2 separate regions of the Homo sapiens genome follow, and region 1 is reported to be linked to region 2. The links are microRNA targets in miRTarBase. Many come from high-throughput screens and were not tested one by one. Region 2 holds a microRNA gene; the other region holds the end of a gene's coding sequence.

Region 1 (3,222 bases), not on the chromosome of region 2:
TTTCAGTCCTATTTAGCTGGTGAAATCCCTAGCTTGTTCTTGATACACGAACCTATTTATTCTCGTGGTTTTAAGTCCTCCCTGCCCTCTCTCCTCTCCCCTGCAGCAGGGCAGGGACCCCTCTCCCCTGCTGTCTCTTGGGGCTCTCTCCCCTCCGCCCTCTGCATTCGGGAACACGCACGTCCGCGTGGGAAGCTTGCAGCAGGGCGTCCGAGCAATAAGGGCTGGGTTTGTCCCCCACCCTGGGGGGGGCCAGGCTCCAGAGAGGGGGCACCTCCCCACACACCCCCCCCCCACCGAGGCCTAGGCCCCTGCCACCCCCAAGACTGGGAGGGGACTTCTTTTTCTAAAACACAAAACTCAGCCCAGCCAGGCCCCCTCCCTGGAGGCCAGCCCCTCCCCGCAGGGGGCCAGGCCGGGGCTCCCAGGCGAGGGGGACTTGGGGCTTCCACGTCCCTGGGGGGCAGGGGCCAGGCCAGGGGGGAGGGGGCTCAGCCCCTCCACCCCTCCCTTCATCCTGTTATTTATTCGGAAGGTTTCAAATCACGACAGAGTCCATGTTGGAGGTGATAAAAAACTGTAAAAAAAAAAAAAAAAAAAAAGACAAAACAAAAGACAAAAAAAAAAAAAAAACCCAACAAGAACACTTCGCGTTGCGTTTAGACTATTTATTACCGGGATCACAGGCCTGGCCGCGGTAACAGACTTTTACATGGAATTGTTTAATTATTTGTACTTTTCATGCCAGAAAATAAAAGTTCAGAATCTTAAGGCCTTGGGTGATCTCTGCACCGCTGCGCGGGGAGCACGCAGGAGCAGCCTGTGTAGTAGCGCCCAGGCCCCCGTCCTTCTCTGGGCCTGGGTCTGTCTGCAGCAGGGGCTTTGGCCCCGGGAGGGAACCCTTGGCCTCCACAGAGCACAGATGAGACCCAGGGAAGGTGGGACACGGGCCCGGATGGATGCTCAAGACAGAAATGGTCCAGGGTCCATCCACCTGGTATCTTCAGGAGTGATCCCCAGATGGTGGGGGAGGCCCGGGTGGGATCTGCAGAAAGCTGCGTCCCCTGCGCTCAACCCCTGCCCACACCCCGGTCCACACCCCAGCAAAGCGAGGCAGACACAGACAAGTTTGGGTGGGGGATCACATTTATTGTATTGAGGTCACAGGTCAAGTCATTCACTAGTCCCCACTAGGAGGGGTGGCAGGGACAGGGCTGGGGGTGGTGGGGCGAGTCACCAAGGTGGGGGGCCCAGGGAGGGCAAGCTCCTTTACCCATCTTTGAAGGCTGTTGGGGCCTGGGAATGTGGACCAGCCCCGCCTGGGCCCCAGAGCAGGGCACGAAGCCCCACAAAGGTCCTGCCGCCACAGAGGAGGGCAACAGAGCCACAGGCAGGCCCAGAGGGGCGGGTGGACGGCACTGCAGGGGCTGGCTTCATGCCTTCTTGAGGTTCTGGGGCAAGAGAAAGACCAGATTAGAAAGCTGGGGACAGCTGGACATGGTGATGTTTGCCTGTAGTCCCGGCTGCTTGGGAGGCTGAGGTGGGAGGATCATTTGAGGCCAGGAGTTGACCAGCCTGGAGACCTTGTCTATTTTCTCTTATTATTATTATTTTTTTTTTTTGAGAGTCTCACTCTGTAGCCCAGGCTGGAGAGTGCAGTAGCATGATCTTGGCTCACTCCAACCTCTACCTCCTGGGTTCAAGTGATTCTTGTGCTTCAGCCTCTTGAGCAGCTGGAACTACAGGCACCTACCACCACACCCAGCTAATTTTTTTGTATTTTTAGTAGAGATGGGGTTTTACACCATGTTGGTCAGGCTGGTCTCAACCTCCTGACCTCAAGTGATCCGCCCACCTCAGCCTCCCAAAGTGCTGGGATTACAGATGTGAGCCACGACGCCTGGCCTATTTAGTTTCAAAAGTAAAAAAATCTTTTTTTAAAAAGCAGGGGATGGCCAGACATGGTAGCTCAAGCCTGTAATCCCAGCACTTTGGGAGGCTGAGGAGGGCGGATCACGAGGTCAGGAGATCGAGACCAACCTGGTTAACACAGGGAAACCCCATCTCTACTAAAAATACAAAAAAATTAGCCAGGCGTGGTGGCGGCGCCTGTAGTCCCAATTACTCAGGAGGCTGAGGCAGGAGAATTGCTTGCACCCAGGAGGTGGAGGTTGCAGTGAGCCGAGATCGCGCCATTGCATTCCACATTCCAGCCTCGGCAACAAGAGTGAAACTCCATCCAAAAAAAAAAAGGCAGGAGATGGCCGGGTGTGGTGGCTCATGCCTGTAATCCCAGCACTTTGGGAGGCCAAGGCAGGTGGATCATCTGAGGTCAGGAGTTCGAGACCATCCAGGCCAACATGGTGAAACCCCATCTCTACTAAAAATTAGCCAGGCATGGTGGTGCACACCTGTAATCCCAGCTACTTGGGAGGCTGAGACAAGACAATTGTTTGAACCCGGGAGGTAGAGGTTGCAGTCAGCTGAGGTCGCATCACTGCACTCCAGCCTGGGCCAAAGAGTGAGACTCCACCTCAAAAAAACAAAACAAAAAAGCAGGGAACATGGGGACACAGGTTGATAGAGTGGCCATGTGGGTCCATCTTCCTCAGGGCCCGCCGCCTCCCCTTGCTGGGGCAGGCCGACGAGACTCCACCTCCCCGCCCACCTCTGCGCCCATCCAGCTAGAGCTCGTCATGGTCGTCTTCGGTGGGTGCTTCAGGCGGTGGCTCCGGGCAGGCGGCTGGCGTCATCAGCTCCATGAGGTACTCGCAGCGACTGGGCTCTGTGGTGCTGGTCACCATGGTCTCTTTCCCGCACAGGAGGCGCACCTGGGGATGGGCAGACGGGTGCTCGAGAGGGTTCGGCTGGGCCAGGCCTGGGTCTCCCCGCCCCAGCTCCCCTGCCTTGCAGGCACTCACGGTGGTGGAGCGGTTGGGGCCCTGCCAGCAGCCCGTGCCTTGCTCATACTTCATGGCACTGAACTTGTCGTGGTCGGGGCCAATCCATGAGCCCCAGGTGCTGTGAGAGACACAGGGTGCTGAGGGCTGGGCCGGTGTCGGGGCACCAGGAGGAGGCAGAGGGAAGGGGCCAGCCCAAGCCACTCACCCAAGGCTGGTGGGAGAGCCCCCGAGTTTGGGTTTCTGCGAGACAAGCTTGAAGGGGCAGAGGCGGTAGACGTATCTGTGGAGGACCGGGACATATGGGTTGGGGAACGCAGGG
Region 2 (3,536 bases):
GTGACAGGGTGGAGCGGGTGCCTGGAGCTAGGGCATGGTACCCTGTCACCTGCCCCCACAATCTGTGCCACTTCTGTCAACCACTGTGCTGACCATGGCAGGCACACCTCAGCTGGCTGCTTCCTGAGCCCTACCAGGAGGCGTCAGGAAGGTGCTGGTGAGGCAAGGCTGGGGAATGAACCACCACCTATCTCAAACCCTGACTGGGCACATGGCGCCTGGGCTGTATCTACAGAAGACTAAAACTCCAAAGGAATCTCGCCATTAGCGTTAGGGAGATAATCCTGGGACTGGTGGAAGGAGGAGACCTCTCTTCTCTAGGATGTAAACTGCAATAAGCCAGCAGCTCTTTTGAGGAGGACAATGGCAGCAGCAGGATGCAGGTGGGATGCTCTGAAATTAGGGGCACCCGTGAGGCATGCACAGTACTACCAATGTGCCGAGGGAGACCCCCAGGGTCAGACAGAGCCTCTTCTCAGATCTTGATTTGAACTTCCAAACCACCAAGATCTGCTGGTGCCGCCGTCCTCCTCCTCATCAGATCCCCCCATTCACCCCCAGCCCTGCAGGGCCCAGGTTCAAGCCCCGCTTCCCTCAGAAAGTGTTCTCTGACCATCAGGATCCAAGAAGCCTGGCTTCCCTCTGTGTCCCAACGTGATGGCTGCTGGCACCACACAGGAGTTGATATTGTTAGTTACCTTTTTTTTTTTTTCCTGAGACAGCGTCTTGCTCTGTTGCCCAGGCTGAAGTGCAGTGGTGTAACCATGGCTCACTGCAGCCTCAGACTCCAGGGCTCAAGCAATTCTGCTACCCCAGCCTCCTGAGTAGCTGGGACCACAGGCACACGCCATCACACTTAGCTAATTTTTAATGCTTTTGTAGAGACAAGGGTCTTGCTATGTTGACCAGGCAGGTCTCGAACTCTCACACTGAAGTGATCCCCTGACCTCCTAAAGTGCTGGGATTACAGGCATGAGCCACTGTGCACGGCTGATATTGTTAGTTACCTTTGCAAATAATTTTTTTAAAAAGAGTAACTTCAAACTGTTATAGTAATTTAGAGGTGACAAAGAATGTTTACAAACATCATCTCATGGTACCCTCACAACAACCCTGTGAGGTGAGTCTGATTCAGCCATTTCACAGATGGCGAAACTGAGTCTTAGGTCAGTGACATGCCCAAGGGCACACTCCTGGCACAGCTGGTACTGGAACCAGATCCGAGTTCACGTCCGAAGTTCCTTCCACAGTATGCACACCTCGGGGCCACAGCAGCTGAAGGCCCTTCCATAGGCTGTGGCTGGAGAAGGCGTGTTCCTCTGTTTGGGGTGGTGATAAGTAGGCCAAGGTGACGGGTGCGATTTCTGTGTGAGACAATTCCATTAACCATGTCCCTCAATCACAGATAGCACCCCTCACCTTGAGCCCAGTTTCACAGGTTGGCCAGCAAGCGGTCTTGGTTCAGGAACTCCATCTTAGTCTGCAGAGAAGGATGCAATGGCAGGAAGTGCCAGGCTATGAGAGGCACACAATATGACATGGGCGCAAGCTGGGAGCTTGTTCAGTCACCAGACACCTCTGATGTGTCAGTCTCTCTTCAGGGCTCCCGAGACACAGAAACAGACACCTGCCCTCGAGGAGCTCACAGTCTAGACAAACAAACCCAGGGTCCAAACAAATGGGACACCAACAGTGTGCGAGGACTGGGAAGGGGTGCCTGAGGTCTTCTGGGGCACTGGGAAGGCTTCACAACAGCAGGGCAAAGGATGAGCAGAAGGTGACCAGGAGTATGGAGAGAACATGCATGAGGGCAGGGGCGGGGCCCCTTTAGACGCAGCCCAGGGAGGACAGACTGAAGAAGGACAAGAGAAGGTGGATGGGTTACAACCCCATTACAACACTTCAGGGGAGAGAGTGTCAGGGGAGAGACGGTGAGAATATGCAGTGCAGGTGGTGAAAATGGGAGCCAGTGAGTCAGAGGGACCAGGGGCTCAGGCCAATGCACAGCCTTCACTGCTGGACATGGTCCCACAGGACCTCGATGCTGAGCTGGGGCCTGGGCTGAGTCAGGAGACAGGGCTCCAGGCACGGCAGCCTCTGGGTCCTGGTGTGTTCCTGCAGCCAGGGATGGATATACTGAGAGCTTATAAGGCAGACGATGTGTGGGTTTTTGGGGTCCAGAGACAAAGAGGCCACTTTCTGAATTTCCAACCTGACTAGATTCATGCAGTGGGAATAGCAGGACAGGCCAAGTGGCAGCTGACTGTTAGGACAGAGGCAAAAATAAAGCCCCGTGGGAGTGCAGGAGGGAGTGCAAAGTCACAGGGAGCGGGGCGGCTGGGAAAGGCTCCATCTGTGGAGCCACATTCTGACAGGACGAGTGAGATTTTAGAAGTGTGGGGAAAAGTGAGAGGGGAAGAAGGGCCAGGGGCACAGGAGAGCCTGAGTAAGAGTGTGACTGACGGTGCGACTTGGGTAGCTGTTGGCATGGAGGCGTACAAAGGCCCTGCCTGATACAACATCTGGAGCCCTGGGGTGAGAACAGGGGTGGGTCAGCAAAGAGACATATCCGGCTTTCAGAAAGTGGCCGCCAGAGGGCAGCTGGGAGCAGGCAGGAGGCCAGGGGCTTGCCGTCCTGTTCCCCTCAGGCAGGGCCATGCTGGGCCTGCTTTCTCTCAGGTGGCACAAGGTGTCAAATGGCCTCGGCAGCCAGGGAGATGAAGACAGTCCAGTACTTCCTTCTCTTTAGGGGAGAAAGAGGTAATTTCCAATGGAAAGAGGTTTACAAGAAGCAAAATTCAGCCCCACCTCCAAGAGCTATGAGGTTTAACAACCTTCCACTCCCCTCCAAAGAGCACATGGAGCTGGGCCTGACTCTTCCCGGGAAGGTCTGCCTGTAAGTCCCTTTCCGGGGCTCTTTCTCAACACTGTGCTGAAGGTGCAGCCCCTGGGCCACTGGGCATCAATGAAGGACATAAGAGGTTGAAAAACTGGGAAAACATTTATTATCCAGCACCAGGAGCTTCATATTTTGAAATATACCAATGATGTTATTACACGCAAACCAAGTAGGAAAAGGACATACATTATGCTCCAAGAGCCAAAGAGAACAAGCACTTCATCCTGTGTTTTAATTCGCCCGGATTCCCACTAAGCTATGGGGTTTTCCTTTTTCTTTTCTTCAGAGTCCCACTGTATAAAGTCGATGAAGAACTACTCTGGTTGCATCAGGGCGAGGACCCTGGTATACCTTGGTGGACCCCTGGAACTCCTCAAAATATCCAGTTTGAAATCCACTGCATTCAACCCCCAAACTGCAAATAAACTTGCCTTTGACCACACATGCTTCTGTCCCACCCCCACCCAATCCAGCAGCAGGGGCACGTCTGACAAGATTTCATTAGTGAGAACCAAATGCGAAGAAACAGTCAAAATCCAGTTACTCAACCCTCTCCTCACCAGCACTGCTTTCCATGCACCTCGGCCCTCTTCCTAAAGCCTGGTCCTTTTCTGGTCCTTGGCCTGGAAAAAGTGAT

What was found. Region 2 holds the annotated microRNA hsa-miR-342-3p (UCUCACACAGAAAUCGCACCCGU, at 1,352-1,374, opposite strand). A microRNA usually pairs through its seed, bases 2 to 8, with sites in the 3' UTR of a target mRNA and lowers its output. Matches are read on the target gene's strand: a 7mer-m8 pairs with bases 2 to 8, a 7mer-A1 pairs with bases 2 to 7 and ends in A, and an 8mer does both.
Region 1: miRTarBase lists PRKCSH as a target of hsa-miR-342-3p. The part of its 3' UTR that is shown has no 7-base or 8-base seed match.

The regions. Positions count from the first base shown.
Region 1 is chr19:11,448,875-11,452,096 of GRCh38, reverse strand. PRKCSH (PRKCSH beta subunit of glucosidase II) reads right to left here. Exons shown (of 18, transcript NM_001289104.2): 15 at 3,109-3,183; 16 at 2,922-3,021; 17 at 2,669-2,831; 18 at 1,129-1,451. The coding sequence ends at 2,685. ELAVL3 (ELAV like RNA binding protein 3) reads left to right here. Exons shown (of 7, transcript NM_001420.4): 7 at 1-771. Among named protein-coding and RNA genes, the nearest start is that of PRKCSH, 15 kb to the right of the region's middle.
Region 2 is chr14:100,107,553-100,111,088 of GRCh38, reverse strand. It overlaps MIR342 (microRNA 342), which reads right to left and starts at 1,434; the gene lies at 1,336-1,434. The region is part of intron 3 of EVL (Enah/Vasp-like); the gene reads right to left. It overlaps MIR151B (microRNA 151b), which reads left to right and starts at 1,575; the gene lies at 1,575-1,670.